Linked DNA regions of Homo sapiens: all the other regions are linked to region 1. Evidence: fine-mapped expression QTL. A gene starts in region 1. Each other region holds a variant in brackets. All regions are shown on one strand. Distances are between the middles of the regions.

Region 1 (8,105 bases):
CTGGATACAGGACAGAGAACCAGAACTGGGACCGTGGCCTCTCAGTAGGGGCTGGGTGAGCAGCCATCTGCAGCCACCTGGATGGAGACCTTTCCTGCTCATCTTCAAACTCCAACCCGGGCCGGACACCCACCAGAAGCACAACTGGAAACTTGGCAGGTAAACCAGGCTGTGGCCCTGCAGTGCCATCGCTGTCCTCACTTGAACTCTGGCTCCTCTGTTCCTCGATGGCCCCTCCACATGGTGCTCCACCCCAGTCTTCAGAAGCTTCTGCCCCAAGGCCAGGGAGCCTGGTATGGAGGTGCAAGTAGGAACAGGTGCAGCCTCTGCTGGGTGGAGGACATGTGCCCTGGGGATCCAGTCCGGAGTGACTGACACCAGCCCTGAGGATGTGGTTCATCCTCCCACACCTGCTAACACAGCCCTCTGAGGTTTACACAGGGCTGCTGAAGATTTTTATCTCCTCTTCACTTTACAGGCAGGAGCTGGGGCCACACCAGTGTCACAGAGCTGGAGGGGAAGCACAGCAGGGCCCAGCTGTTCCCAGCCTCCAATCTCAGGAGTCCTTGAGAGCCTCAGAGTCCGAGATTCTGGGCCGTTGGATCTTTTCGATTCCTACTTTGATAAAGAGAAGGGCGGGGCGGAAGCCTCTGTCACACAGATTGGAACAGTCCAACGCTGACAGAGCCAGGACCTGGGGTCAGGAACTGAGCTCAGCTCCAGGCTCATCTGATGTCCTCCTGACAGCCTGAAGATGGAGACCTTATCTCCATTTACAGGCGTGGCAGGTGGCAGGGACTGGCCCCAGCTGACCACGGTTCTCCAAGTTCACAGCTGGGAATTCAGTCTTCCCTGCCACCCTCCCCTGCTGTCTCATCTGGATCCCCCGGTCATCTACTCCCACTACCAAAACTCCCGTATCCTTGAAAATTCCTAATACCATTAAGGAATGAAAGTACATAACAATGTGATGAATCACCTTTTACTTCCTAGACTAGCAACGAATGAAAGCTAAGTGTAACAAGGGTGTAGGGATACAGGCACATGTGTGAACTAGGTGTGAGTGTAAGCTGAGTTCAATGGTCTTTTGGAAGAAAATTCGTAAACATCTAAAGAAACTTCTGAAATGATTTATCCCACGGAAGTAGAAGTAAAATTCTACTTCTAAGGAGTTGCCCAATAAGCTGGTGCGCATGGACATGTGGACACACGATACATACAAGGGTATTTAGTACAATGCTGTTGGAATTAGCAAAGGCAAATTTGCTTTGGGTTATATCCCATCGGGATGGGATATAACCAGCTGCCTCTAGATGGCAACAGTGAATTAACCTGTGGCTTACCCATGTAGTAAAATACAATACCCTTGTTTAAAAGAAAATCAATCTGAATGTACTGCCATAAAACATCTAATGTGATTTGTGCTAGCTCCAAAATTTTAAAAAGCAACTGTGCATTGAAATGCATTTAATAAGGCAAGATTGATGGAGGGATCAAAGCCTCCTTTGGGACGCATAGAGTTCACATTCCCAAAACTGTGAAATTCAGGTTGCTGGTCTTGTCTACACAGGTCATCCACACATTCTCTCTTCAGGGCCACTGTCCTGACACAGCCATTCTTCTAGCTGCCTCAGGTAGGTCCACCCACTATAAACTATTGTAGAAGTCAGTTGTGTAATTTTTGAGAGGTGAAAATGTCACTGCTGTTCTGAATTTAGTATTACTTCGTTGAAAGAAAACATGGAGACTCTCATGGTTCATGTAATCTTGTTTTATCCTCCCCGTTTTGTTTTTTGGTATTACGTAAGAAACCTTAGAAAGCACTGTTGGCAGAAACGTCAGTCACTCAGAAAAAGTCCTGGCAGTCTGCACATCTTATTTTTATGTCCTTCTTGTGCACCCCACTACCAATCTCAGTTTCCAAACCCAACTCACAACGAGAACTTTACATCTTTTATGCCTAAGGAAGGGGCCATCCCGCGGTCCTGCCTATGGGATACAGAGGGGACACACGGGTGGCAGTGGAAGACACTGACTGCAAGCACCTTGGTTAACCGCTTCCTGCCACTTTCAGGGTTCTATAGGAAATGAAAGTTACAAAAAACAGCGTTGGAAAGCTTTTTCACAGGCTGTTTGTTAAACTGATCTCCAAGAAACACGTGTAACAGTGTAAACATAGGGTTAATTTTGTTTGTTTGTTTGTCTGTTTTTGTTAAGGCAGAGTCTCGCTCTGTCGCCCAGGCTGGAGTGCAGTGGTGCAATCTCGGCTCACTGCAACCTCTGCCTCCCGGGTTCAAGCAGTTCTCCTGCCTCAGCCTCCTGAGTAGCTGGGACTACAGGCGCAGGCTGCCACGCCTGGCTAACTTTTTTTTTTTTTTTTTTTTTTTTTTTGAGACGGAGTCTCGCTCTTGTTGACCAGGCTGGAGTGCGATGGCGCGATCTCGGCTCACTGCAACCTCCGCCTCCCGGATTCAAGTGATTCTCCTTCTGCCTCAGCCTCCCGAGTAGCTGGGATTACAGGCGACCGCCATCACGTCCGGCTAATTTTTGTATTTTTAGTAGAGACGGGGTTTCACCATGGTGGCTAGGCTGGTCTCCAACTCCTGACCTCAGGTGATCCGCCCGCCTCGGCCTCCCAACGTGCTGGGATTACAGGCGTGAGCCACCGCGACCGGCCTGGGTTAACGTTATGAACGAACGAACGAACGAACGAACGAAAGAGGCAACCGCTCTGTGGCTTCCTGAGGTTCACTCCGGGGTTTCCATCTTGACTCCCTCCCTCCGCTGATTCTGGAACTTCCTCTGGGGCAGCTCAGTGCGGTCCTCGCCGCACGGGACAGCCAGGGGGAGCGCGCGCTCTGCTCCCTCGCGGCCCGGTCGCTCCTGCCCAGCCCGGGCACCCCACTCTTCCCCTGACTCCGACGGCGGGTTCGTCCTGCCCAGACATGCCCGGCCGCAGGCGACCCGGGCCAAGCATCCCCACCGTGTCCCCCTCTCTCCCTGCCCACTCCCGGCGCCAGGTGCGCTCTTCCCCAGCCAGGGACCGCGGCGGAGACTCACCGGCAGCAGAACCGCGACGATGAAGACGACGAACTTAAGGATCTTGGGGTCCAGGAGCCATGGTCTGGTTCCCGACGCTGTCCTGGCTCCTGGATAGCGCCCTGCTCGAGCGCTCGAGGCGGTCGGGACGCTTTGTCCCCAAAGTCCCATGAGAAGGGAGGAGGGTGGATCGAAAGCGCCAAAAATCAATCAGAAATCGTCCCCGTAGTTTGTGCGCGTGCAAAGGTTCTCGCAGCTACACTGCCAGAATAGAACGTGCTCCTCCGCTTTTATACCCCGGAAAAAAGGCGTGGTCAGTTGTACTCCCTTCCCGCAGTCACTTCCAGGCACTCAGGCTGGGTCTCCCCCAGCACCTCCAGGAGGGCCCAGGTTGTGTGGGTGGGTGCATGGACGGACAGGAACTGGCTCTTTCCGGCAGCGGTGACCCAGGGCCTGCGGTTTGATTCCGGGTCCTGTCCAGGCTGTAGGCAGCAGAAGGGGAAGGAGCTGAGGCGCTGCCCGCTGCGCTGCTGTAGTCTGGGTAGTGAGCTCCAGAGGAGGCACTGGAGGCCCATCCTGAGCCTGCTCCCTCCCCGGGCCGCCTGTCTCTCCTCTTCTTAAACCCTGAACTACTTCCTGGCCTCAGGACTTCAGTCCACTCTTAGCTTCTGCTCCCACTCCCTCCTCCCACAGCGGCCTCACTGACCAGTGCACTGATGCCACTGATGTCTCCAGCCTCCTTGCTGCTGTGACCCAGCTCCAAGCTTCTCTGGCAGGGGCTTGGTATCCCTCAGTAGCGGGTGCCTGGCACCAAGGAGGGGCCCAGTGAACACATGAGTGGACAGAATGAAGGACACAGAGGCCATGACAGGCACCTGCAGAGGCTGAGGAGTAGGTAGGAGGGAGAGGAACGCCGGGGGCATCCCTAGCCACAACCTGGCACCCTTTGCATGGTCAAAGCACAAACACTCCCTGACCAACCTTGAGGGCTCTAGTATTGAGGCCCCATGGAGACAGGGGAATCAGGGGAGTGCCTTCCAAAGTCTGTCCCCAAGTCTATTGTCTACCCAGGTCCAACTGTCTGACCTTGGGCTACTTACCTCCCCATCCAGTTGAACACACTGCCGCTGTGAGGGCAGACCCAATGTGTGGTTTTGAAGGGTGCCAGCTTGTGACCCTAAGCAGTAAGGTCAATGGCAGGACTCCTAGACCCTTGGGATGAGTCGGCTCCTGACCCCTCACATGGTAGATAGAAGAGGATAGCGCTATAGAAATGAAGGTTTTTTGGCTCATGAGAAACCTGGGAATGAAATGTCATCCTCTCCACAGGCTTGGATTTGAGCGATGGATCACCCTGAGCACCTTCCAGGGCCCAGACAATGACCTAGGGTCAGAAATGTGAGCCAGGGCCGGGCGCGGTTGCTCACGCTTGTAGTCCCAGCACTTTGAGAGGCTGAGGTGGGCGAATCAAGAGGTCAGGAGTTCGAGACCAGCCTGGCCAACATAGTTAAACCCCATCTCTACTAAAAATACAAAAATTAGCTGGGCGTGGTGGCGGGCACTTGTAATCCCAGCTACTCAGGAAGCTGAGGCAGGAGAATTGCTTGAACCCAGGAAATGGAGGTTGCAGTGAGCCGAGATTCGTGCCACTGCACTCCAGTCTGGGTGACAGAGCGAGACTCTGTGAAAAAAAAAAAAAAGAAAAAAAAATGTGTGCCAGGTCCCAGGCACTGAGCTAGGGTCAGAAATGTGCGCCAGGTTTCAGGCACTGAGCTAGACTCAGAAATGTGTGTCAGGCCCCAGGCACTGAGCTAGGGTCAGAAATGTGTGTCAGGCCCCAGGCACTGAGCTAGGGTCAGAAATGTGCGCCAGGTTCCAGGCACTGAGCTAGGGTCAGAAATGTGTGCCAGGTTCCAGGCACTGAGCTAGACTCAGAAATGTGTGTCAGGCCCCAGGCACTGAGCTAGGGTCAGAAATGTGTGTCAGGCCCCAGGCACTGAGCTAGGGTCGGAAATGTGTGCCAGGCCCCAGACACTGAGCTAGGGTCAGAAATGTGTGCCAGGACCCAGGCAATGAGAAATGTGTGGGGTCAGGAATGTGTGCGGGGTGCAGATCCAGGCAGGAGGTGAAAGGTCAGGGACTTCAGGAAGACTGACAGCATTAACACAGAGCCACCAGGGCCTGCAGGAAAGTCCTTAGAGCACCTTAGCTCCCTTGGCCCTGGAGGGTGGACCACACAGTATAGACCAGAAACCAGACTGCAGGTAACAACGCATTCTCTGTGCCCTGTGTGGAGCACTGACTAGGGCTAATGGCAAAAGGCTGTGAGCACCTCCAAGGAACTGGGCCTTTAGAGTCAAGTTTCCACTTAAGAGGCACTTACTAGCTTGAGATGGAACACTAACTGAAGTCTCCCCTGTCACTGAAGGACATAAAATAATCTTGAAACCTGAAAAACTGATGATGTCTTCAGGAATCTTGGAAAAGCTCTAACGGGGAGGCCAGTCCCAGAAGAGTTCTATTACAAAATGGATTTTTTTTTTTTGAGATGGAGTCTCACTCTGTTGCCAGGTTGGAGTGCAGCACGATCCAGGCTCACTGCAACCTCTGCCTCCTGGGTTCAAGCGATTCTCCTGCCTCAGCCTCCCGAGTAGGTGGGATTACAGGCACATGCCACCACGCCTGGCTAATTTTTGAATTTTCAGTAGAGACGAGGGATCTTCATGTTGGCCCGGATGGTCTCGATCTCTTGACCTCGTGATCCACCCGCCTCAGCCTCCCAAAGTGCTGGGATTACAGGCGTGAGCCACCTCACTCAGCCTAAAAAATGGAAATGGTTGATATGGGATCCTGGTGCCTGAGGAAGGCAAAGAGGAGACACTCATGAGCAGGGAGCCTCTGTTCCCCTCAGACTGAGTCTGGAACTGGGTGAGGAGCTGCTGGATTCTGTGGTCACTTGGACATTGCCCTATACACAGCTCTTTACTTACTGACCAAGAGCTACTTAGTTTGTAGACAGTCATTCCTAGATGAATGGACAACATCCTACTTGGAAGGCCACCCCTCTGATGGAAGAAGGCAAAGGCAAATTGGCTAGGTGGGTTGGATTGCATGCTATTTTCCTAGCCTTATGGAAGATTTGAACAGCAGCAAAAGCCCCTGTACTTGAGTTTTTTTCTGGCTCATGGACAGTCGTCAATGTCCCGGTCATAGAGTTGGGAAGGAGAATGTGAAAGTTGATCGCACAAATTGGGTCATTCTTGTCACACCCAACTAAAACAGAGTCAAGAGGCCATGGGGAAGAAAAATCACTGTATTACCCCCAAACTGCAATTCTCTGTAAGTCTGGCAGCTGTAACGTGAAACTATTAATAGTTCTGTCTTATATCTATTGACACAACCAGCTGCTGCTCTAAGACCAGCCTGACCCACTGCAGTCACTCACCAGTCAGAGCATGCCACTTCTTCAAATTTTACAGCGCCAATGAACTTTCTGCAAAAAAAAATACTTAGTATTTCTCATTTAAAAAAAAACATCTGGCCGTGTGCGGTGGCTCACACCTGTAATCCCAGCACTTTGGGAGGCCGAGGCAGGCGGATCACGAGGTCAGGAGATCGAGACCATCCTGGCAAACACTGTGAAACCCGGTCTCTACTAAAAATACAAAATAATTAGCCGGGCGTGGTGGCGGGCACCTGTAGTCCCAGCTACTCGGGAGGCTGAGGCAGGAGCATGGCATGAACCCAGGGGGCGGAGCTTGCAGTGAGCGGAGATCACGCCACTGCACTCCAGCCTGGGCAACGGAGCCAGACTCCGTCTCAAAAAAAAAAAAAAACTTCCAAACTTCTCTTTGTTCTTTGGACGTACCAAAGACAACTTGGTCTTTGTGTATGCCAAGAATTGCAATTCTTACTTTCCAAATAAAGGGTATTAAATTTGGATATTCGTCTCTACATTTTCCATTGTTTCCAAGAGTAAGGGGAAACTGACCTAGTGTAGGGATGTCCATATGAGGCCCGACCCTATGGAAATCTCTAGGGGAGCTTGAGGAGTGCATTAAAGTAAGACACGCCCATGCTGGTCAGTAGAACCCACCCTCAGGTTTAGAAAGTGACTGTAATCAGCAAGAGATACCCCCGTGTACTCCCTTGAGGTGGTCACCAGAGGCCACGAAGCAAAAGAAGTGGATATGGGGGAACCACAGTGACGCAGAGATGGGCTGAATCGAAACACATTCCTCTTGCTCTCTCTCAGGCACATGACACCAATAAGAGCTGTTCTGTCTAGCAGCGGGAGAGACAGAGACTGCCTATAGCTATGAGGCAGATTCCCTGATGAGGAGGCCCTCAACATACTTGGAAAGTGAGACTGAGGGCAGTGCCCTGGGGGGTACAGGTGAGTCTCGACAGCAACAGAAACTGACTGTGGATTGTCTTTTCCTTACCTGGTGGAGGCTGCAAATGCCCAGAGTGCTATTAATATAAAAGAACTGAAAGAAGGTATTATTCTAGTTTGGACCACTAAACCGAACTTCCTTGGACCGAGAAACAGGCTGTTCAGTGCATAATGTTTAGCAATGGGCAGAGAGATATCCTCCTTAGAGTAATAATTTGATAGGGAAGCGGAACAGTCAACTGAAACATTGATTGTCTAAAATGGGGGGAGACACAGGCATGAAGGGCTGGCTTCCACACCTTCACTGGTGTGTGCCCCTACTCCACACGAGTGGGCTAAAGGAGTGTCCCCACCAGACTTTCCTCCATTTTTCCAGTGGATCTGGGGATGAGGGGGTGGGGAGGATGCTAGTATAATGACTGTCATTTTGTTGTTGTTGTTGGGTTTTTTTGAGACACAGTCTCACTCTGTCACCCAGGCTGTAGTGCAATGGCATGATCTCGGCTCACTGCAACCTCCGCCTCCCAGGTTCAAGTGATGCCTCCTGAGTACCTGGGACTACAGGCCCCCGCCACCATGCCCAGCTAATTTTTGTATTTTTAGCAGAGACAGGGTTTCACTATGTTCGTCAGGCTGGTCTCAAACTCCTGACCTCAGGTGATCTACCCAC
Region 2 (8,105 bases), 23 kb before region 1:
TTCTAAAGTTAAAAAACTATAAGGCAAAGCATTGTGGCTGTGCGGCATCTGTAGTTAGATGTCATTAAATGCACACACCAGTAGAGATGGAGCTTGCAATATAAGAAGCAGAAAAAAAGACTTGTCTCATGATGAAGAACTGCAAAGAATGACATCCTAAAACCACTTTTTTTCTTTTTAAATTGAGATGGAGTTTCACTGTGTTGATGAGGCTGGTCTCAAACTCCCGAGCTCAAGCAATCCACCTGCCTCAGCCTATCAAAGTGCTGGGATTACAGGCATGAGCCACCGCATGTGGCCTAAAACGACCCTTAATACACAATCGTATAACTATGCAGCCAAGAATCTGATATAAATTTCTCCCGTTTGCTTATCACACGCAGTATTTCATAAAAATTACTCCAAGTGCGTTAACAAAGTTCTAGGACCATTGGTAAGCTGCCCCATATTGGATAGTAGAGTTTGTTGGGGCATGGGTCAAGTACTGGACTGTTTCTTCCAGGCTGCTTCCCTTTGTAGGAGAAAAGGTAAATGAGGGAAGCTCTGGTTTCCTGAAGAGATTCTTTCACAGGCAGGACGTAGCAGAGCCTGCCTCATCTTCTTCATAAAAGAGCTTTTCGGAGCCCACCAGTTGGTCCTGAATTGTTTCCTTTGCATGTCCTTCTTCCAGTGTTGCCGAGGCATCCAGCAAGGTGCTGACTGAGAAGAGAGAAGAGATTTAGGGTCTCAATGCTCCAAGGACGATCAGCACAGGATCGACATGGGGCCCCCTGCTTCCAGCAGTGAAACCTCCAGAAGAGCCCTCTCAGCTATAGGGACAGCAGTTAGGACACCGTCCCTATTCCCTGTCCTCCTGCTGCGTCTCAAGGCACAAAACACTTACTGTCAGCGGAGTCAGCGTCATTCACTGGAACCAGCAGCCTCCTCCTCTGACACCCTTCAGCTTCTGCCTGTTCCTGTAACACACAGTGGGGAATGCTCTGGTCAGAGTCAGGAGTCCTGCAGTCTAGTACTGACCCTGACCACTAGCCAGCAAGAGACCTGCAGCGCTTTCCCTCTTGGGTCTCCATGGAGATGGAGACAAACCTCTGGTCCTCCATAGCTCTTGGGCTCTGTGTGCTGGTGGCTCATTGAGACATAAGTGACATGCAGTAAATGCTCACTTTGTAAGTGTTCTGACCAACTTTGACTATAGGCCTGTGTAATTATCCCCTGATCAAGACATAGAAACTGCCACACCCCAGAAAGTCCCCTTCTGCCCCATCTAATCAACTCCCACCCACCCTCACAAGAAATGATCACTTCCTTCCAGAATTCTTACCAGCAGAGTCTCGGCAGACTATATATGAGAGCACCCAGGAAAACCTAACAAAATGATTTATCCCAAGACTGTAAATGATCTTTGATCATCAGTACTCTACCATATCAATAGCGTAATTAAATAAAATGGCAGTCTCTATGGAGGCTGGAAAGACATTTGGTAAAATTAAACAGCAATTCTGATTTTTTTCAAACCCTTTTAGAATAGTAAGCTGTGTTCTTGATGATGAGAATTTCTATATGAAACCAAAAGTGAATGCCATTGCTAAGAGTGACACTTTGGAGGCCTTCCCCAGAAATCAAATCAGGACCCAAACACCTGCCTTCCCTAAGCACAGCTGAATATTGTTCTGAAAGGTCTGGCCTAGGCAACAAGATGGAAAATTAAAATGAGGCAAGACTTTTGGAAGAGGGCAGACACAATAATCATTATTTTCAACGTCATTTAAAACCCCTAAGATGAAACTACAATATTGAAATAGAAATGTATGTCTGGAGGAATGTTAAAAACATAGCAAATGCAATAAATTAGCAAACAGAATTACAAGGTTATCCAACTCATAATGGATACAAAATACTAAACAGCCATAAGAAACAGGAATAATTTATTTGAAGAGGAACACAAATCACAACTCAGTTACAATAAAATACTTGACACCAAATGTTATCTCCTTTGATAAGGAAATACTGAATATTAATAAAATATTCAGTGTTTCTAGATTAATTTTTAATTTTAAAGCGAATTGATAAAACGGCAACTGAGGTTTTTCGGGAGGGAAGGATGGAGGAAATCTTTTAATTCTAAATTTTATCTGGGTAAAATAATACATTTTGAAAAAGTATGGAAGAGGTGTTTGCTCTTTTGGATGTTAAAAAACATTAGAAAGTTCCCATTGGAACATGCCTCAAAATGGTAAGAGCCATCTATGACAAACCCACAGCCAACATCATACTGAATGGGCCAAAGCTGGAAGCATTCCCCTTGAGAACTGGAACAAGGCAAGGATGCTCACGCTCACCACTCCCATTCAACATAGTACTGGAAGTCCTAGTCAGAGCACTCAGGCAAGAGAAAGAAAGAAAAGGCATCCAGATATGAAATGAAGAAGTGAAAACTCTTCATGGACGATATGATTCTATACCTTGGAAACCCTAAATACTCCACCAAAAGGCCCCTGGAACTAATAAACGACTTCAGCAAAATTTCAGGATACAAAATCAATGTATAAAAATCAGTAGCACCGGGCACCGTGGCTCACACCTGTAATCCCAGCACTTTGGGAGGCCGAGGCAGGCGGATCACGATGTCAAGAGTTCAAGACCAGCACGACCAACATGGTGAAACCCCGTCTCTACTAAAGAATACAAAAATTAACGGGGCGTAGCTGGGTACGGTGGCTCACGCCTGTAATCTCAGCACTTTGGGAGGCCAAGGAGGGCGGATCACAAGGTCAGGAGATCGAGACCATCCTGGCTAACACGGTGAAACCCCACCTCTACTAAAAATACAAAAAACTAACCAGGCGTGGCAGTGTGCGCCTGTAATCCCAGCTGCTGGGGAGGCTGAGGCAGGAGAATGGCGTGAACCTGGGAGGTGGAGCTTGCAGTGAGCTGAGATCGCGCCACTGCACTCCAGCCTGGGTGACAGAGCAAGACTCTGTCTCAAAAAGAAAAAAAATCAGTAGCATATCTATATACCAATAATGTTCAGGCTGAGGACCAAATCAATAACACAATCCCATTTACAACAGACACACACACACACACACACACACACACACACACACACACACAATACCTAGAAATACCTCTACCCAAGGATGTGAAAGATCTCTAAGAGAATTACAAAACACTGCTAAAAGAAATCATAGATAACATGAACAAATGGAAAAACATTCCATGCTCATGGATTGGAAGAATTAATATGGCTAAAATGGGCATACTGCTGAAATCAATCTACAGATTTAATACTACTCCTATCAAATTACCAATGTCATTTTCCACAGAATTGGAAAAAATTATTGGAAGTAACTGAATCACGTGGACTGGTTTTTCCAGTTCTGTTCTTGTGATAGTGAATAAGACTCACAAGAGCTGATGGTTTTATAAAGAGCAGTCCCCTGCACACGCTCTCTTGCCTGTCGCCATGTAAGATGTGCCTTTGCTCATCTTTCACCTCAGGCCATGATTGTGAGGCCTCCCCAGCCATGTGGAACTGTGAGTCCATTAAACCTCTTTTTCTTTATAAATTACCCAGTCTCAAGTATTTCTTCATAGCAGTATGAAAATGGAATAATACAACTCCCCATTCAACAGCTGATGCTTCGGATATTTGGCTAGCCATATGCAGAACAACGAAAACTAGACCCCTACTTTTCACCATATACACAAATTAACTCAAGGTAGATTAAAAGTTTAAAGGTAAGACCATGAACTATAAGAATTCTAGAAGAAAACCTAGAAAACACCCCTCTGGACATCAGCCATGGCAAAGAATTTATGATTAAGTCCTCAAAAGCAATGCAATAAAAACAAAAATTGTCAAGTGGCATCTAATTGAACTAAAGACCTTCTGCACAGCAGAAGAAACTCTCCACAGGCCGGGTGTGGGGGCTCACACTTATAATACCAGCACTTTGAGAGGACGAGGCAGGCAGATCACCTGAGGTTAGGAGTTCGAGACCAGCCTGACCAACAAGACAAAACCCCATCTCTACTAAAAATACAAAAATTAGCTGGGCATGGTGGCACGTGCCTGCAATCCCAGCAACTAGGGGGGCTGAGGAGGGAGAATCACTTGAACCCGGGAGGCGGAGGTTGCAGTGAGCTGAGATCATGCCACTGAATTCCAGCCTAGGTGACAGAGCGAGAGTACAT[C/A]TCAAAAAAAAAAAAAAGTATCAACAGAGTAACAGACAACCTACAGAATGGGAGAAAATATTTACAAACTATGCATCTGACAAAGGTCTAATATTCAGGAGCCATATGCAACTTAAATGAACACACAGAAAACAACCCCATTAAAAATGGGCAAAAGACATGAACACACATGTCTCAAAAGAAGACATACAAGTGGCCAACAAACATATGAAAAAATGCTCATCATCATGAATCATCAGAGAAATGCAAATCAAAACTACAGTGGGATACCATCTCATACAGTGAGAATGGCGATTATTAAAAAGCCAGTAACAGTAAATGCTGGCGAGACTATGAAGAAAAAGGATCATTTATATACTTTTGGTGGGAATGTAAATTAGTTCAGCCAGTATGGAAAGGAGTTTGGAGATTTCTCAAAGAATTTTAAAACAACTACTATTTAACACAGCAAACCCACTACTGGGTATACATAGAAAAGAAAACAAATCTGCTGGGCGCGGTGGCTCACACCTGTAATCCCAGCACTTTGGGAGGCCGAGGTGGATGGATCACGAGGTCAGGAATTCAAGACCAGCCTGCCCAAGACGGTGAAACCCCGTCTCTACTAAAAATACAAAAAATTAGCCGGGTATGGTGGCACATGCCTGTAATCCCAGCTACTCTGGAGGCTGAGGCAGAGAACTGCTTAAACCTGGAGGGGCGGAGGTTGCAGTGAGCCGAGATTGTGCCACTGCACTCCAGCCTGGGTGACAGAGCGAGACTCCCTCTCAAAAAAAAAAAGGGAAAACAAATCATTCTACCAAAAGACACCACTATCCATAATAGCAGTGACATGGAATCAACCTAGGTTCCCATCAACAGTGGATTGGATGAAGACAATGTGGCATATATACACCATAGGTTACCACACAGCCATAAAAAAGAATGAAATCATATTGTTTGCAGCCACATGGATGAAGCTGGAGGCCATCATCCTAAGTGAATTAATGTAGGAACGCAAAACCAAATACTGCGTGTTCTCATTTATAAGTAGTAGCTAAACATCAGGTACTTACGACCATAAAGATGGCAACAATAGACACTGGGGACTACCAGGGCGGGGAGGGAGCGAGAGGAGGAAGGGGTGAAAAACTAACTGTTGGATACTGTGCCCACAACCTGGATAAAATCATTCATACCTCAAATTTCAGCATCAAACAAACTTACATATGTACCCCCTGAATCAAAATAAATTTGAAAAAGGAAAAATAAAAAATGAAAAAAAGTTTCCTTGGCAGTGTATTATATGTAAAGTAATCCCTGTAATGTAAACAAAATGTACATACGCTTGTATGAATATACATGGCATATGCATAAAGATTTCTACAAAGAATCACAAGAAATTATCTGTTGTATTCACCTGAATGAAGAAGGGCTGGGGGCTGGAGGAAGTGTTAGGGGACTACCACTATGACTCAGCACCTTTGTTTTTTTTTTGTTTTTGTTTTTGTTTTGAGATGGAGTCTGACTCTGTAGCCCAGGCTGGAGTGCAGTGGCGTGATCTCGGCTCACTGCAGGCTCCGCCTCACGGGTTCACGCCATTCTCCTGCCTCAGCCTCCCGAGTAGCTGGGACTACAGGCACCCGCTACCACGCCCGGCTAATTTTTTGTATTTTTAGTAGAGGTGGGGTTTCACCATGTTGGCCAGGATGGTCTCCATCTCTTGACCTTGTGATCCACCCTCCTCGGCCTCCCAAAGTGCTGGGATTACAGGCATGAGCCACGGCGCCCGGCCGACTGAGCACCTTTCTATAGTGTGGCAGATGTGTGGCTCTGCATTTACCACTTTCAAAAAATGTGCAGCGCGGCCAGGTGCAGTGGCTTATGCCTGTAATCCCACCACTTTGGGAGGCCAAGGTGAGAGGATGACTTGAGGCCAGGAGTTTGAGACCAGCCTGGGCAACATAGCAAGATCAGATCTCTACAAATTACAAAACAAAGGTGCAATGCGATTCAGCAGCGTGGAGTAATTGTTGATATTTTTTGTTTATTTCCTTACCTTTTTATACTTCCCTTCATTAAAAAAAATGGGGTATAGTTATAGGAAAGGAAGAAAATGGGTGGAAAGTGAACCTTGTCTAGGTAAGTATTTGACAAGTGATCAAAGAGGAGCCAAAAGCAGAGAAAAATAGGAGAATCAGTTCCTAAACAGGCGTGGAGGAAGGAGACAGTGACTCACAACAATTCAGGGAATTCCTCACTTCACACAGCATCACAAAAGAAATGGCACCTACGTTCCACTGGTGTATGCTACAAACCAAATCATTCTTTAAAAGTCCACAAAAAATTAGGTAGGATCATCTTATTTTATCCTGAAGGAAAGAACTTAAAAAAAAACAAATGTGTGTCCAGATTTCACACCTACTCAATGTCATATCAAAACTAGTGAATCGATGTGAATAACTGGATGTGTGTGTTTCTGTAATACAAAAGCACTTCTACACACTGACTCAGAAATCCTACTTCTTCCCAGAAGCCTCCTTACATACTTGATCAGAAATCTGGACAAAGATTTACTGTGAAATATGTTCAATGTAGTAAGAATTTTGAAGAACATTTAAAACTTCCGCTGTTTCAAGCAAGGGCTCCCTGACTTCTGTTAGGAGCACACGATGGAGACTGTGCAGCCTTATTCAGTCCTCAGTGAACCCTGTGACACCCACTCTATGCCTGTGGAGATCCAGGCTCTGGGGACACAGCAAGGACAGGACAGGGAGTAAGAAGCAGATGTCCTGCAGACTGGCACGGTCACCACCTCAGTGCAGCTGCTCCGTCCCCTGCAGTCCCCTGTCTCCCAAAGGCTCCATGTCCCCTTGGGCCAGGAAAGAGGAGGCACTGCCATGTCCCACTGTCTACAAAGTCCTGTGCAGGCTGCACGCCAGGCAGGGCACAGTCCCTCCTCAACTCACCAGCAGACGCTGTGGCTCCTCTGGCAACTCTACAGTCACACCTGTTAGCTCTGCCAGCTCCTGACCTTGGATTTCCTGCTCAGAGACCTGGGTGGGCTGCAAGTATCTGTTACTCAGGGTCTCGTTGCGGGCATTGTCCTCCGCCCCAGGAACTCGTGAAGGACATGAACGCCGCCGGAAAAGGACCTTGGGAAGACAAAGAGCCCACTCAAGTCCACACCCCGGGCTCAGCTTCAGGGTCCCCAGTACACAGCTGGACCTGCCATCCCCAACCCCTTCCAATGAGGTCACCCCAGGCAGCTGAGGCTCAGCACATCCAGGACCCCATGCTGAGGTGGGTCAGGTGGTCACCCCATCCCCATGGGGCCAGCTGTGGAGTGATGGTGTCACCGAGGCTGCAGGAAGGACAGGGCTGCAGCACGGCCTGCTGGTCTGTGTGCTGCTCAAAATGGCCGTGTGTCCCCCACAGTCAGCCCAGATCCCCCAGGCCATGTCAGAGAGTCAGGGCAGCCATGAGGACAAGGGATTGTGCCCACCCAGGCTCGGCAGTGGATGGGAAGCAGTTCCTGAACCCACGAAGCCCCCAGTTTCTGGAGAAACCAACTCACTCTGTGCACACGTTCGGGACCTCCTCCACCACCTGGAAAAGAAGCAGTCTCCTGAGCAGGCGGGGAGGGGCCCATGCAGCACCTCCCTCCCAGAGGACAGTGGGGCGCAGGGCTGGCTGGGGGCTGGGACACTGGACAAGGAGCCCTGGGGCTGGGGACAGAATGGGGCCTTGCAATTAGGGGACACCCTGAGGAAGGGGGATGAGAAGGGGAACTAGAGTAAAAACCAACACGTGGAAAATCTCTGTGTTCTGCTCTGACCAAGGCTGAATAAATCCCACGACCACTTCTCATCCTGACCCTTGTCACCCAGTTGAGGAGCTGACTGCCCCCTGCCTGGCTGGGCCTGAAG
Region 3 (8,105 bases), 79 kb after region 1:
TGGGCCCATATTTAATAACCATAAAGGGATTCTGAGTGGAATGCTCCCCACCTCTGACAAATCTAGCCTCTGACAAGCTAGATTTGACAAGCACCTATTGGTGCTTGGTACCAGCATGAGCTTACTTTATGGCTCAAACCTATGGGACAATTTGCTGAGGTCTGAGAGCAACCCACCCCTCACCCCTCCGCCCCACCAAGAGAATTACTATCTTCCCAAATTTGGTTGAAATCTAAAGTTTATTTTGCTATACAACTTTTTTTTTTTGGAGTTTTACTTGCTTCCAACAAGAAAGGCAAGTTTTCCTGCTTCCATGATGATGGAAGATAGGTAACTCCTTTATGGAGTTTGAGCTCACTTCCAACAGGGAAGGTGAGTTTGTTGTTGTTGTTGTTGTTGTTGTTGTTGTTTTGTTTGTTTTTCTGCTTCTAGGATGGTAGAGAGTGGTCTACAGCCTGAGATCCATTCCTAGATAAGCAACTGAATTGGGGTTTATCTTGGCTAAAGTTAAGATTAAAAACCAGCTGGTCTTTATTTCTCCTTACCATTACAGTGCTCAGGAATTATGTTAAGTTGTGAGATTGTTTGTTTTGCTTAACTTTTTTGTTGTTGTTGATGTTTATTTGTTTCTGTTTTTGTTGTTTCAGTCTTTCTCCCGTTGGGTTTGACCAACTCTGTCCAACTCAATCAAATCCGAAGGAAAGTTCCAAATTATGAGGAACAAGGCCTCTAAAGTGGCTAAATTCCCATACACAAAAAAAGGTGGTATAGTGAGGGGAGAAAAACGGCCAACAAAAGAAAAAAAATAAATAAAAACTTTTTTTTTTTTTTTTGAGACGGAGTCGCTCTCTGTCGCCCGGGCTGGAGTGCAGTGGCGCGATCTCGGCTCACTGCAAGCTCTGCCTCCCGGGTTCACGCCATTCTCCTGCCTCAGCCTCCCGAGTAGCTGGGACTAAGGCACCCGCCACTACGCCTGGCTAATTTTTTTGTATTTTTTGGTAGAGACGGGGTTTCACCGTGTTAGCCAGGATGGTCTGGATCTCCTGACCTGGTGATCTGCCTGCCTCGGCCTCCCAAAGTGCTGGGATTACTGGCTTGAGCCACCGCACCCGGCCGGCAAGAAAAATGTTTTATTTTTATTACTTAAGGGGTTTTATTTACATAACAAAGCCTCCTTTTTGCTAACCAGGCCAAACTGAAAGCAATGGCTGTCCCCCTACTCTGCAGTTCAATAGCTAAGGTTCTGCCTTTTTTTTTCTCCTGTCTTCATGACAGCCTAAGTTTGGTTCCTAAATCAAGTCCTTTCTGGTTTGATAGTTGGTACTTCTGCTTTTTTTTTTTTTTTTTTTTTTTTTTTGAGACAGAGTTCCGTTCTTGTTGCCCAGGCTGGAGTCCAATGGCGTGGTCTCAGCTCACCGTAACCTCCGCCTCCCGGGTTCAAGCAATTCTCCTGCCTCAGCCTCCCGAGTAGCTGGGATTATAGGCATGTGCCTTTTGAATTTCTTAGTAGAGATGGGGTTTCTCCATGTTGGTCAAGCTGGTCTCGAACTCCTGAGCTCAGGTGATCCACCAGCGTCGGCCTCCCAAAGTGCTGGGATTACAGGTGTGAGCCACCGCGCCGGACCAATACTTGGTACTTCTGAAATAGCAGCAATTTGTCCTAGCTGAAATATAATAATAAAATTTTGAATTTTTTTTTTTTGAGACAGAGTCTTGCTCTGTCGCCAGGCTGGAGTGCAGTGGCACGATCTTGGCTCACTGCAAACTCTGCCTCCCGGGTTCAAGCGATTCTCCTGCCTCAGCCTCCTGAGTAGCTGGGACTACAGGCGCGTGCCACCACACTCGGCTAATTTTTGTATTTTTAGTGGAGACGGGGTTTCACCATGTTAGCCAGGATGGTCTCCATCTCCTGACCTCATGATCCGCCCGCCTGGGCCTCCCAAAGTCCTGGGATTACAGGCATGAGCCACTGCACCCAGCCCAAGATTTTTTATTTTTAAAGACACTCAATAGTTAAAAGTCAACTTAATTAAAAGCTAATATTTAAAATGTATGTGTATGTGTATGTGTGCATAAGTGCATGTTCATATTTAAAAGGCCTTCATGGTTTTGTTTTTGTTTTTCTCTGCTAGGACCTTGTCTTTTTTTGAGCAAAAACTTTTTTTGTTCTCAATTGACTCAATTCTGTTTCCACTCGATTTTTTTTTTTTTTTTTACTAAAATAGTTATTGCAACAGAGGCTACTCTTGGGTTTTTAAGAAAGAGTATAGTTTAGACACTTAGAAATGCTTTGTTTACAAAAATGTTTTAAGTGCACTGTAAAAGCATCATGTGGTCTAGCCTCATAATAATTCTCCCTTTTTGGAGACCCAGGATTCAGTGTGGGCTCTGCCCAGAGCTCAGAGATCCAGTTAAAAAAGAATTGGTAGTCCCTATCTAAATAACAGTGGTCTCCTTATACAATCCAGTGATAAATTTCTATAATTTTATGTTCAATTGGCAATTAAATCTGTTTTAATTTCCCTCTAGCTCACAGAATTTCTCTTCAGACCTTATAATGTAAATTTTGCTATCTGACTTTCACCTGAGTTGTTTCCTTTAATATGCAAATTTAAGACTATTTAGCTGACTACTGCCTAGCACTGTGAAACAGGTTATCAAGAATCTGAAAGTCTAAGATAAAGAAAAAAGGTTTTTATGAATCTGTAAGATGTACTTCTTCTATCAGCATGCCTAATACATCTATGTATTTATATGTTATGTATACAATGTTGCACTCCTGAAAATATATCAAAGAGCTCTAATTAATTGTCTTAAAAAATAAAAGCATTTACATCAAATACTTTATTAGAAAAAGGAAAGACTAGTCAAATGCTTTTTCAAGTTATGTGACTTAAGTAAAATCTTTAATAAATAAGCTATCTTTAAAATTATTGGTAAAGTAATATTAGAAATGTCTTAGGAATTGCCAGCATACATTTTTATTTGCGTTTATTAATCAAGCAATTTCATACTTAACCCTGCCAAATACTATTAGGTGTCAAAATTTGGCACAGGCTATAAACCCAGCCCAAGACAGAATGATCTCTGCTCGTGTAACCATTAATAAATAAGACATTGATACTGGTTTAATGAAAATAGCTACATCTTGATTTAGTAAAATTACCATAACTTCTAATCTTGTGGCAGTCTAGGCAGTCTAGTCCACAGGCAGTAAGGAGTTTTGTTTTGGGAAAGGACTGTTATACTTTGTTTCAAAGTTAAACTATAAGTAAACTTGCATGGGAAGAGAATGTTTAATTTTGTGAAAAACGACCAAACTGTCTTCCAAAGTAGCTCTTAGAGACAACCTGTCCACAGAAGAACGCAGCAAGCCCCCTCCCCTAAATGCCCTGCAGCTTATTTCTTCTGAGATGCTGCCCCTACTTCACGTTACCAGAACTTAGGTACAGCTGTATCCACCCCCAGGCCAAA[C/T]CACATCCTGGTACTCTAAGCCAGGTGGGGCAAGAAGTGACAAACAACTGCAGGATGTAGACTAACCTCAGAAAGCCCCTAGGCCCTCAAAGCCCTATATAAGTCCCTCACCTTAAACACCCTGGGCTGCCTCCTCTGACTGTTATGCAGCAGGCCGGCAGGTCAATAAACTTGCTTGCCTGACTTTGAGTATACTCGTCTTTTCTCTTGGCCAACCTTACGGTAGCTGTACCAGTTTGCATTTCCACCAGCAATGAATGAGAGTTCCTGTTGCTCTGCATCCTCACCAGCATTTGGTGTGGTCAGTATTTTGGATTTTCACCATTCTAATAGGTGTGTAGTAGTATGCTATTCTTGTCTAATTTGCTGTTCCCCAATGACATATGATGTTGGGCATATTATCATATACTTATTTGCCGTTGGTAGATCTTCTTTGGTGAGAGGTCTGCTCAGATCTTTTATCCATGTTTTAACTGGGTTATTCTTTTTCTTTTTTTTTTGAGTCTTAAGAGTTCCTCGTGTGTTTTGGATAACAGTCCTTTATCAGAGATGTCTTTTGCAAATAGTTTCTACCAGTCTGTGGCTTATCTTCACATTCTCTTCACAGTGTCTTTCAGAAAGCAAATAATAATAATAATAATAATTACGTCTAATTTATCAATTATTTCTTTCATGGATTATGCTTTTTGTGTTGTATCTAAAAAGTAATCATGATGCCCAAGGTCATCTAGATGTTTTGTCTTCTAGGAGTTTTATTGTTTTGTGTTTTTACATTTAAGTCCATGATCCATTTGAGCTGGCTTTTGTGAATGGTGTAAGATCTGTACCTGGATTTGTTTTTGTTTTTGCATGTAGGTGTACAGTTGTTCCAGTGCTCATTGTTGAAAAGACTCTTTGAACCATTGTATTGCCTTTCTTTTTTCGAAAGGTCAGTTGACTGTATTTACATGTGCCTATTTCTGGGATTCCTATTCTGTTCCATTTATCTATTTGTTTATTCTTTAACTAATACCACACTATCTTGATTACTGTTGATTTATAGTAATTCTTGAAGTTGGGTTGTATCCGTCCTCTGACTTATTTGTTCAATATTGTGTTGGCTCTTCTGGGTCTTTTGCCTTTCCACATAAACTTTAGAATTAGTTTGTTGATATCCACAAAATAACTAGCCATGATTTTCACTGGGATTTCACTGGATCTACAGATCAATTTGGGAAGAATTGATATCTTGATAATATTGAGTTTTCCTGTCCATGAATATAAAATGCCTCTGTATTTATTTAGTCCTTCATAGATTTCTTTCATCAGAATTTTGTAGTTTTCCTTATGTAGAATTTGTACATACCGTGTTAGATTTATACCTAAGTTTTATAGGGGGGTGCTAATGTAAATGGTATTGCATTTTTAATTTCATATTCCACTTGATCATTATAGGTATATGGGAATTGACTTTTATACATTAACTTTGTATCTGCAATCTTGTTCTCATTGCCTCTTAGTTCCAGGACATCGATTTGGCAATTCTTTCATAATTTTCTGCATGGATAATTATGTCTTCTATAAAGACAGACCATTTTATTTCTTCCTCTTCAGTCTGTACAACTTTTATTTCTTTTTCTTGGCTAACTGTGTTAGCTAGGATTTCCCGTACAGTGTTGACTAGGAATGGTGTGAGCAGACATTCTTGTGTTATTCCTGATTCCACTGGAAAACGATCTAGGTTTTCACCATTAATTCTTATGTTGGCTGTAAGGTTCCTGTTTATGTTCTTTATCAAGTGGAGGATGTGTCCCTCTATTCCTAGAGTGCCGAGACTTTTTATCATGAGCTGGTGTTGGATTTTGTCAAATGCTTTTTCTGCATCTAGCAATATGATCATATGATTTTTCTTTAGTCTGTTGGTGGATTATATTAATTGATTTTTGAACATTGAACTAGCCTTGCCTAGCTGTAATAAATTCCGCTTTAACCTGGTGTACAATTCTTTTGATACATTGTGGGTTTCAATTTGCTAACATTCTATTGATGATTTTTGCATCTATATTCACAAGATATATTGTTTTGTGTTTTTTCTTTCTTGTAATGTCTTTGTGTGGTTTTGGCGTTAGGGTAATCCTTGCCTCATAGGATCAGTTGGGAAGTATTCCTTTTGTTTCTATCTTATAAAAGAGATGGCACAGAACTGGTACAACTTTTTTCTTAAATATTTGGTAGAACTTATCAAATGAAACCATCTGGGCCTAATGCTTTCTGTGTGGATGTTGTTAATTATTGATTCAATTAATTAGATATAAACATATTCAAGTGGTCTGTTTCCTCTTGTGTGTTTTGGCAGAGTGTGCTTTCAAGAAATGTGTCCATTTCGTCTAGGTTATCAAATTTGTGGACATACAGTTATTCATAGTATTCCTTTATTATCATTTTCATGCCCATGGGATCTGCAGTAATGTCCCTTATTTCATTTCTGATATTGAGTATTTGTTTTTTCTCTTTGTTAGCCAGGCTAGAGGTTAATCAATTTCATTGACCTTTTCAAAAAATCAGCTTTAGGTTTTGTTGATAATCTTTTGAGTTTGTTTTCAATTTCATTGATTTCTGCTCTTTTTATTATTTTTTCTCTTCTGTTTAATTTGATCTTAATTTGTTCTTCTTTTATAGATTCCCAAGGTGGAATCTTAGGTTATTTTAGATCTTTCTTCTTTTCTGGTTTGTGCATTCATTGATATAAATTTCCCTCTATACAGAGATTCACGGATCCATCCGGGTGGTCCGGGCACCACTGGCGCCCCTCTGCGGCTATTCCCCAGTTCCATTTTCTGAAGCCACAGGTCAGAAGCCGCTGTACAACGCTTTGCCGAACTCCAGAATCTTGAAGGAGACGTAAGGTGCAGCCACCTGCCGCGCAGGCGCAAGCCTTTCTTTCGGCACAAAGACCGTGGGAGGAGGGGTCGGCGCAAGCGCTCGGTGTCTCTCTGAAAAGAACTTCATCATACTGCCTCCTGGCTGACGGAGCGCAGCGCAACGCATGCGCCTTGAAGACTTATGGAACTTATTTCACGCTCAGGGCGGCGGTGACGTGTGAACGAGAAGGAGGTGGTCAAGGAACGGAAGCCGGGAGGGAACGAGGGCGGAAGCGGACCAGGGCCAGGCTTGTGTTCGCAGCCTTGCCGGGGCTGGGGTTCCGATGTGGTCCCCGGAGCGGGAGGCCGAGGCCCCAGCCGGGGGAGACCCGGCGGGCCTTCTGCCCCCCGAGTGGGAGGAGGACGAGGAGCGCATGTCCTTCCTGTTCTCCGCTTTCAAGAGGAGTCGCGAGGTGAACAGCACCGACTGGGACAGCAAGATGGGCTTCTGGGCGCCGTTGGTGCTGAGCCACAGCCGCCGCCAGGGGGTGGTGCGCCTGCGTCTGCGGGACTTGCAGGAGGCCTTTCAGCGCAAGGGGAGCGTCCCGCTGGGGCTGGCCACGGTGCTGCAGGACCTGCTGCGGTGAGGGGCGGGCTGGGGCCAGGGCCGCGAGGGCGGGCGGGGGCAGCTCTCGGAGGGCCGGGCCCTGGTCCTGTTCTCTGCACAGCGCACTGCGCCCAGCCCAGTGTCTGGCCCAGAGAAGGCATCCAGTGTGTGTTCAGAAGGCGAAGAAGGAAAATAAGGAGGCTGGGCTAGGGAGGCTTGGAGGGAGAGGAAGAGGGGATCTGGGGGAAGATTGGGGGGCGGGGATAGTCCGATTAGACGAGTTCCAGAGAAGCCAGCCTAACAGAGGTGACAGTAATTTGCCTGGACTGGGACCCCGTTATGTTGTTGTTTCCTAAGGGCCTCCAAATTTGAATGGCCCGTGGAGCAGAAGGTCTAAGAGATAGGATTCATTAACCTAGGGAAGGTTAGAGCTAAAAAGCGGGCATTCGTGGGGAAGAGGCCTGTAGGCATCTTGCCAACAACCCCTGGCACAGCTCATTCGTCTGGCTTGTCCTTGGCACAGGCTTTTTGGAGCAGAGAGGACGTGAAGGAGAATGAGGGCTTTGCTGAGTATCTGAGTGCCCTTAAAAGGTCTGTAGGAGATACGTGTGCGACAGGTGCAGTTTTGGCGGTATCTGAGGGTAACATTGATAACTAATACATGTACAGTACTTCCCAGCATGCAGATACTTTGCATGCACCATTTGACCCACTCAGCGGTCTTGTGGTGAGGTGATAGAATTATCCTCAGCAGACAGAAGAGGAAACTGAGTTTCAGAGAGATCAAGTGACTTACTCAGAGTTACACAGCTAGTTAAAGGTGATACCGGGACTGGATCCCTGGTCTTTGGATAAGTCATTTGCACTTCAGTGTACTTATCATTCTGAGACCAGCCTAGCGTGATACCTCTCTCAGTGAGGGAAGGAGAAAGTCAACTCTGATGTTTTTTGTTTGGTTGGTTTTTTTTTTTTTTTAGTTTGCTGCTCTTTCTGATTAAGAGATCTCCCTTCTCTACTTTTGTTCCCAGTACCTTCCCATTGGACTGGACATTGATATTGCCCAGGATGGTCTCGAACTCCTGCACTCAAGCGATCCTCCCACCTCAGCCTCCCAAAGTGTTAAGATTACAGGCGTTGAGCCACTGCACCTGGCCAACGAGGCTTTCTGAGATGGCATACAGTGG
Region 4 (8,105 bases), 54 kb after region 1:
AAATATTAAATAATGAACTTCAGGTTTAAAAAGGCACTTTACAAACTGTCCCCCAAAACAGCCTGCCAATGTCCCATGAAATACTAGAGTCAGAAAAAGATGAAAGAGCAGTATAGTTATTCAGGACAGGATTTCTGTGCAATAAATTACATTATAAAGACAAGTGAAAACCATTGGGGTCTGAGGATTAGCTGGTAGTAATGTACTGATGCTTACTGTCTGATATTGAGGATTGTATTGTGGTTATACGGGAGAATGTCCTTATTTGTTGGAAATATCCACTCAAGTGTATAAGGGTGATGTGCGTTCTGTGGGTAGCTTGCTCTCAGGTGGTTCAAAGTAAAGGGTATAGTATAATTTTTGCATCTTTTCTGTAATTGGGAGATTTTTTAAATTAGAAAGTTAAATTAGAAAAGGAAGAGCAGGGGGGCCGGGCGCCGTGGCTCACGCCTGTAATCCCAGCACTTTGGGAGGCCAAAGTGGGCGACCACCTGAGGTCAGGAGTTCAAGACCAGCCTGGCCAACATGGTGAAACCCCGTCTCTACTAAAAATATGCTGGGCGTGGTGGTGGGCACCTGTAATCCCAGCTACTCCAGAGGCTGAGGCAGGAGAATCACTTGAACCCAGGAGGCGGAGGTTCCAGTGAGCTGAGATTGCACCACTGCACCCCGGCCTGCATGACAGAGCGAGACTCCGACTCAAAAAATAGCATAACTAAATAAATAAATAAATAAATAAACAAACAAAACAAACAATGAATTCCAATTCATAGACAGCTTTAGGAATATTTAAATTATCTTTATTTCTTGTGGCTATTTTGCTAAGTAGTGTTTTTTAAGAAATTTGTCTATTTAATCCAAGTTGTCAAATTGATTGGCATAAAGTTATTCATAAGATCCCACTATTTTCCTTTTAATGGCTGTAGAGTTTGTAATAACATCCCATCATTAATTCTTGATATTGGTATTTCATGCTGTTGTTCTTTTTTTCTTTTAAAGTTTGGTTTATTACTTTTTTTTTTTTTTCCTGAGATGGAGTTTTACTCTTGTTGCCCAGGCTGGAGTGCAGTGGCGTGATCTCGGCTCACTGCAACCTCGGTCTCCTGGGTTCAAGCGATTCTCCTGCCTCAGCCTCCGGAGTAGCTGGGATTACAGGCATGTGCCACCACGCCTGGCTAATTTTGTATTTTTAGTAGAGATGGGGTTTCTCCATGTTGGTCCGGCTGGTCTCAAACTCCAGACCTCAGGTGAATCGCCTGCCTCGGCCTCCCAAAGTGCTGGGATTACAGGGATGAGCCATCTCGTCCGGCCAGTTTATTACTTTTATTAATTTTGTTGATCATTTCTGAGAACCAACTCTTAGCTTGTTGATTCCTTTTATTGTTTGAATTCTATTTCATTGATTTCAGTCTTATTATTTCCTTGTCATGTTGTTACTACCTTTGAGTTTAATTTATACTTATTTTACGGGTAAGTAATGCACACCTCTGAGTCATTGATTTTGATACCATTCTTCTTTTAATCCTTAAGAACTTTACTGAGATATACTTTATATATGATGTAATTCTTTCCTTTAAATATATTTATAGAAGTGTATAACCATCAATAAAATCAATTTTTGAAGATTTTCATCATCATCCCCAAAAGAAACTCCAGGCCAGGCACGGTGGCTCACGCCTGTAATCCCAGCACTTTGGGAGGCCGAGGTGGGTGGATCACGAGGTCAGGAGTTCAAGACCAGCCTGTGCAACATGGTGAAACCCTATCTGTACTAAAAATACAAAAATGAGCCGGGCGTGCTGGCAGGTGCCTATAGTCCCAGCTACTCGGGAGGCTGAGACAGGAGAATCACTTGAACCCGGGAGGCAGAGGTTGCAGTGAACCGGGATCACGCCACTGCATTCCAGCCTAGGCGACAGAGCAAGAAGCCAATTCAAAAAAAAAAAAAAGAAATATTTTGAATTCTCTTTGATTTCATTCGTGAACTATGAGTTATTTATAAGTATGTTGCTTAATATTCACATTTTTGGAGTCCTTCTAGATATTGTTATTGCTTAACACTTTAATTTCATTGAGATCAGAGAACATATTTTATATTATTTTGTTTTAAATGTATTTAGATTTGTTTTATAGTTCACAATGTGGTCTATCTTGGTGAAGTACCATGTTCATAGAAGAGAAGGAATCTCCCATAGATGTTGCATATATGCTCTATAAATGTCAGTTAAGTCAAGGTGGTTGACAATGTTCAGATCTGTTATTTTACTGTTTTCATCTGATCGTTCTATCAGTTGCTGAGAAGGGGGTGACATGATCTCCCTTTAATCCTTTTGAGCGTTGCTTCATTTATTTTAAAGCTCTACTATTAGACATATACACATTTATGATTATTATGCCTTCTGATGAATTCATTTTTTTTTTCTTTTTTGAGACGGAGTCTTGCTCTGTTGCCAGGCTGGAGTGCAGTGGCACAATCTCTGCTCACTGCAACCTCCGAATCCCTGGTTCAAGTGATTCTCCTGCCTCAGCCCTCCCCAGTAGCTGAGATTACAGGCAAATGCCACCACACCCAGCTAATTTTTGTATTTTTAGTAGAGATGGGGTTTCACCATGTTGGTCAGGATGGTCTCGATCTCCTTGACCTCGTGATCTGCCCACCTCAGCCTCCCGAAGTGCTGGGATTACAGGGGTGAGCCACTGCGCCCGGCCTGAATTCACTTCTAACACTAAAAATAGTACCTTAAAAAAAAATCTCTACTAATAGCAAGTGAAAACCTGACAACGAGCTCCTGGTGACTCTGGACCTGGACAGTGCTCAGCCTTCTGTTCAGCTGTTCTTCCCACCTCTCACATGAAACATGTCTATGAAAGGCTGAGGACGTCACATCTGCATTGGTGCGGGCTTCCTAGAACCCATGTTACTCATTCATCCAAGGAGGGCATGTCGGCGCCTGGTAGAAACGCTGTGCAAGGAATCGTGGGGTATCAAGAAAAAGGCACGACCCTCCCTTTCCTTAGGACAGTTCCAGTTCCCAGGGAGATGAGGCACAGCCATCAATAACCCGAGTCACGAGGGGCTGCCCAGGCAGAGGTGACAAATGCCACTGGTGGCAGGGACACCGGTAGACATAGAGGGAAAGGTCCACATAGAGGGAAAAGTCCACACAGGCAGGTTCCTAGGCAGATACGAAGTCAAGGCAGTCGGGGAGGGCAGTCAAAACAAGTGATGCTGGGACACAACTCTGAGGTTTGTGGGCGTCTGATTAAGGGAGATGGAAGGTGAGGTCAGAGAAGTGAGGTTCTCAGTTCACAGATTTGGGCTCATGGGGGTGTGAGGTTGTGTGTGTGTTTGTGTGTGTGAGAGAGAGAGAGGGAGAGAGAGAAAGAGAGCAAGAGAGAGAGGTCTTGTTCCAGGTCTTCTCCTCCATAGACTCTCCTGACCCTGCCCTGCCTCTTCCTGAGATGAGTCATTCACCAGGGGGTTTCCTTGCCTTGTTCCTCTCGGATTAGCATTGTGTTAGGCTGTTTCAGAGGTAAGTTTGATATTCACACTGATTTCCTCTCTCAGGCATACACACCCTAAAAAAATGCCTTATTGATCTTAAAATGAGCAACTCAGAATTGTTCTGAGGTTGGCTGTGGTCGAAAATCTGCTTCCTTTGAGTCTTTCGTGGCTTTTTTATTTCTTTGTTCTTTTGGTATAAAAAGACCCCTGGGTTAAGAAGCAAGCCATCTGTCTTGTAGTCTCGGGCCAGCCTCATGGTCTGGGGGAAGCCACTTCTTCTCTAAACATGTCTATCATTCTGGAAATAAGAGGTGGCTTTACATGACTTCTCAGGTACCCCCAGCAGTGACCCAGCGCTGGGTGAATGCAGGCCTCATGAAAAAGCACCAAATACTCCCCTGGGAAAGGTCAGCAGAACCCAGTGACCCAATCACTGCTGCTGCCCCGAGGGT[T/C]GCTCATCCTCCTGCCCAGCCCCTCTACTGAACAAATGTTCTGAGTCTCATGCTGTTTGTCTAAAACAAAGACAATGAGGGTTCCTGTACAGTCTGGTTGTATGAGGATTAAGTGTGTTCATTTACATATGAAGTGCTAAGAACAGAGCTTGGCACACGCAAGTACTGTATTTCAGCACATGCTGTTGTTAGTACAATCATTCCCCTCAATGTTGATTTTAATGAAACCACATCCTCTAAGCCACCAATACCATGACCTGGGGCCTTGCAACTGCTGGAGTCAAGTAGGGAGGGATGGCATCCCTGGAGCCGGCACAGCCTCTCTGGAGGTGGGGGGTGGGGGAGGTGGCCCCCATGCTTCCTGATAGTTATTTAGGTCCCTAGTGACACCTCCTCCACCAGACTGTGGGCTTCAGGGAGCAGGACTGACACAGGGCTCATTTGTCCTCCCACCACCACCAGGCGCAGACATTCTCAGAGTAAAGTGCTCATCACCTACTTCCTGGGTGAGTGACTTTCCCTCCAAGCCCATGAGGTGAGCCCAGTGGTGGCCTCAGCTCACCGCCTCAGGTCACAGGTTCCAGGCTACAGCACAGGGATGGGACCCCGAAGAGTCCTGTGGACTCTGCTAAGGAACCCTAGGAGCTCCCAGAGGCCAAGTGCAGGGCAGAGATGTGGAGAAGCAGCTGCTCAGAGGACTTTAGCCCTGCAGAAGCCAAAACACGGCTGCTATTATACAGAAGGGGAGACCAAAAATGCTACAGACATGGCTCCGGCAGATTATTTTTGCCACCATCGAAGTGCTGAAACCACACTGTTAAGGAGAAAATCTTAAAAGCAGCCAGAGAACAAAGATCTCCTCCCCACAGACAAGCCAGGTGAGAGGCGCAGCCTAAGCCCTGAAAAACCACACAGGAAGAGGCAGCGGCAGAGGCCCCACCCCAGCCGGTGCTGCTCCCCTCTCCTCTTCATCAGGACTGTCCCCGCTCCCTCCACCCAGTGCTGAGACCAACAGCAGACATGGGGGCGAGGGTGTGATGCACTTAACATGACCTAAGCCACACAAATATATTACCAACAAACTCCAATGACTTAACTTTGAGATTCTCTTCATCTAAGTTTTTAAAGTGGTCATTCCTAGTTTCTCTCATTCCTACCAGTGCTCTGGACAGACTTGCCTGTGGCCAGGTGCACACACGTTCCCCCTCTGAGCTGCACACACTTTCCCTCTCTGAGCTTTGGTCCTCTCCTCTGTAAAATGTGATGATTCACATCCCCTCCTGGCCACAGGCGAGTGTCTGAGGTGCCGAGTGCACCCTGCTCTTCCCTACAAAGCAGACCCTTTCTCCTTTCCCCATTATCACAGATACCTGCCTGGGAATCCGGAAGAGGCCCTTCCCAGTCCAACAGGCAGCTGCTATTATCAAGCAGGCCAGGTCCCAAATGCTGGGGACTTCCTCCTCCTAAATCTCATTTTCTCCCCAGACAAAATGAGAGCAACAATCCCCACATCCCTGGGTTAGGAAAATACCCTGAATGAAGATGTGCAGTCTCTGGCTGGGCTGGCCCAATCTCTATGCCAGGTCCTTCCACCTCACCTCTCTCTTTAGCAAAGTAGAAATTGAGAAATTCTGAAGGCTCTGAAGCTTAGACACTCAGGCTATCAAAGAGCCCAGAGATTGGAGGCTGAAGACTGCCAGGGTTGGCCGTGCTCCTCTTCAGCTGTGACTCTGCTGTGGCCCCAGCTCCTTCCTATAAACTAGGCAGATATAAAATCTGCAGCGGCCCTTTATAAACCACAGTGGTCTGTGTTGGCAGATGTGTGCTGCCGTGTAGGAGGACAAATCACATGCTCAGGGCTGGTGTCAGTCACTCATGACTCTGGATCCCCAGGGCACCTGTCCTAATGAACTTGAAAGAGAACTGAAGGCACTGGCATTTTTCCAGACTAAGTGACACCAACTGCCCAACAGCACAGGCTCAGGGCATGGCACTGTCCCCATCTCCGACCTGGAAGCTAAAGCCTTGCTGCCCTGTCACTCCTGGATACAGGACAGAGGACCAGAACTGGGACTGTTGCCTCTCAGTAGGGGCTGGGTGAGCAGCCATCTGCAGCCACATGGATGGAGACCTTTCCTGCTCACTCTTCAAACTGCAACCAGTGCCGGGTGCCCACCAGAAGGACAACTGGAAGGAAACGTGGCAGGTAAGCCAGGCTGTGGCCCTGCAGTGACATCTTTGTCCTAACTTGAAGTCTGGCTCCTCTGTTCCTCCACGGCCCCTCCCCATGGCGCTCCACCCCATTCCTTAGAACCTTCTGCCCCAAGCTCAGAGAGCCAGTATGGAGGTGCAGGTGGGAGCAGGTGCAGCCTCTGCTGGGTAGAGGACAGGTGCTCTGGGGATCCAGAGTCCTGAGTGACTGACACCAGCCCTGAGCATGTGATTTGTCCTCCCACACGACAGCACACATCTGCCAACACAGACCACTGTGGTTTACACAGGGCCGCTGCAGACTTTTATATCCACCTAGTTTATAGGAAGGAGCTGGGGCCACAGCAGAGTCACAGAGCTGAAGAGGAGCACGGCCAACCCTGGCTGTCTTCAGCCTCCAATCTCTGGGCTCTGATAGCCTGAGTGTCTAAGCTTCAGAGCCATCAGAATTTCTCATTTCCTACTTTGATAAAGAGAGAGACGAGACGAGGTGGAAGGACCTGGCACAGAGATTGGGCCAGTCCAGCATTGACAGAGCCAGGACCTGGGGTGAGAAACTGAGCTCAGCTCCAGGCTCATCTGATGTCATCCTGACAGTCTGAGGACAGAGACATTATCTCCATTCACAGGCATGGCGGGTGGCAGGAACTGGCCCCAGCCGACCACAGTTTCCTAAGTGCAGAGGTGCGACTGCAGTCTTCCCTGCTCCCTCCCCAACGGTCTAATCTGGAGTCTCTAGGTCATCTACTCCCAGTCTCAAAAAATTCCTGGATCCTTGAAAATCTCTAATAACACTGAAACAAAAAATACAACATTGAGGTCTATCATTTTTTACCTCTTAGAGTAGCAAAGAATGAAAGTTCCATGTAGTAAGGGTGCAGGGACACGGGCACGCTTGTGTATTCTTTTTTTTTTTTCTTGAAACGGAGTCTCGCTCAGTCGCCCAGGCTGGAGTGCAGTGGCGAGATCTCGGCTCACTGCAAGCTCTGCCTCCCGGGTTCACGCCATTCTCCTGCCTCAGCCTCCCGAGTAGCTGGGACTACAGGCGCCCGCCACCGTGCCTGGCTAATTTTTTTCAATTTTTAGTAGAGACGGGGTTTCACCGTGTTAGCCAGGATGGTCTGGATCTCCTGACCTCGTGATCCACCTGTCTCGGCCTCCCAAAGTGCTGGGATTACAGGCGTTAGCCACCGCACCCGGCCACACTTTTGTATTCTTGGTGTGAGAGTAAAACTGGCACAATCTTCTCCCGAAGTACAATTTAGCAATATCCAAACAAAATTCTACATTGATGAGCTCATGTACCTAAAAATTCCTCTTCTAAAGGGCTGCCCGATACTTCAGGGAACATTGACATATGGACATATGACACATACAAGGGTTCTCACTACAATGCTGCTGGAATTAGAAAAAACAAAAGCAGGACATAATGTTAACAATTGCCCATGGGATGGAAGATTAAAATTAACTGTGGTTCACGCCATGTGTTTCACCCATGCACTAAATATTATGATGCTGTTAAAAAGAATGAGATACTTGCATGTACTGATAGAAAACATCCAATGCGATTTGTTCTTCAGTCAGAATTTTAAAAGTTAAGGTGCCTATAAATGCACAGGAAGAAGGCTGAGGGATGGTGGGATGAGAGGGTCCTGTGGGATGGCAGAAGGCCTTGGTGTCTGCTACGGGTCCTTTGTCCCTGCCAGGGCTCACGTTGAAATCTGAACCGTAATGTAGCTGGTGGGGCCTGTTGGGGTTTGGGGTGGATCCCTCATGAAAGGCTTGGTGCCATAACCGCCCCCTCCCACATTCCCCCAGGAGTTGTCAATCTTAGTTCCCCATGACACCTGGTTGTTAGAATGAACCTGGCCCCTCCCCGTCTCCCTTCCGGATCTCATCCCCCTCCTCCTGCCATCCTCCCCACCCCTTCCCCTGAT

What was found. PIP is the estimated chance that this variant, and not a neighbour inherited with it, causes the effect.
Region 2: its variant is fine-mapped to the expression of TNFRSF10D in whole blood (TOPMed, PIP above 0.99).
Region 3: its variant is fine-mapped to the expression of TNFRSF10D in whole blood (TOPMed, PIP 0.97).
Region 4: its variant is fine-mapped to the expression of TNFRSF10D in whole blood (TOPMed, PIP above 0.99).

What each region holds. Positions count from the first base shown.
Region 1 is chr8:23,160,726-23,168,830 of GRCh38, forward strand. It overlaps TNFRSF10D (TNF receptor superfamily member 10d), which reads right to left and starts at 3,302. Exons shown (of 9, transcript NM_003840.5): 1 at 3,061-3,302. The coding sequence starts at 3,210. RefSeq lists an enhancer at 3,040-3,159 and a silencer at 7,748-7,928.
Region 2 is chr8:23,137,305-23,145,409 of GRCh38, forward strand. It overlaps TNFRSF10D (TNF receptor superfamily member 10d), which reads right to left. Exons shown (of 9, transcript NM_003840.5): 6 at 7,754-7,785; 7 at 7,146-7,331; 8 at 884-956; 9 at 1-699. The coding sequence ends at 566. Among named protein-coding and RNA genes, the nearest start is that of TNFRSF10D, 23 kb to the right of the region's middle. RefSeq lists an enhancer at 7,286-8,013. The variant C/A (reference allele first, on the strand shown) is at 4,198.
Region 3 is chr8:23,240,038-23,248,142 of GRCh38, forward strand. It overlaps CHMP7 (charged multivesicular body protein 7), which reads left to right and starts at 3,600. Exons shown (of 11, transcript NM_152272.5): 1 at 3,600-3,807; 2 at 6,219-6,957. The coding sequence starts at 6,659. RefSeq lists enhancers at 3,292-3,793, 6,363-6,612, 7,416-7,465 and a silencer at 6,633-7,142. The variant C/T (reference allele first, on the strand shown) is at 3,475.
Region 4 is chr8:23,214,807-23,222,911 of GRCh38, forward strand. All of the region lies in intron 1 of TNFRSF10A (TNF receptor superfamily member 10a), which reads right to left. Among named protein-coding and RNA genes, the nearest start is that of TNFRSF10A, 6.2 kb to the right of the region's middle. RefSeq lists enhancers at 3,414-3,613, 4,644-4,713, 4,894-4,953. The variant T/C (reference allele first, on the strand shown) is at 3,958.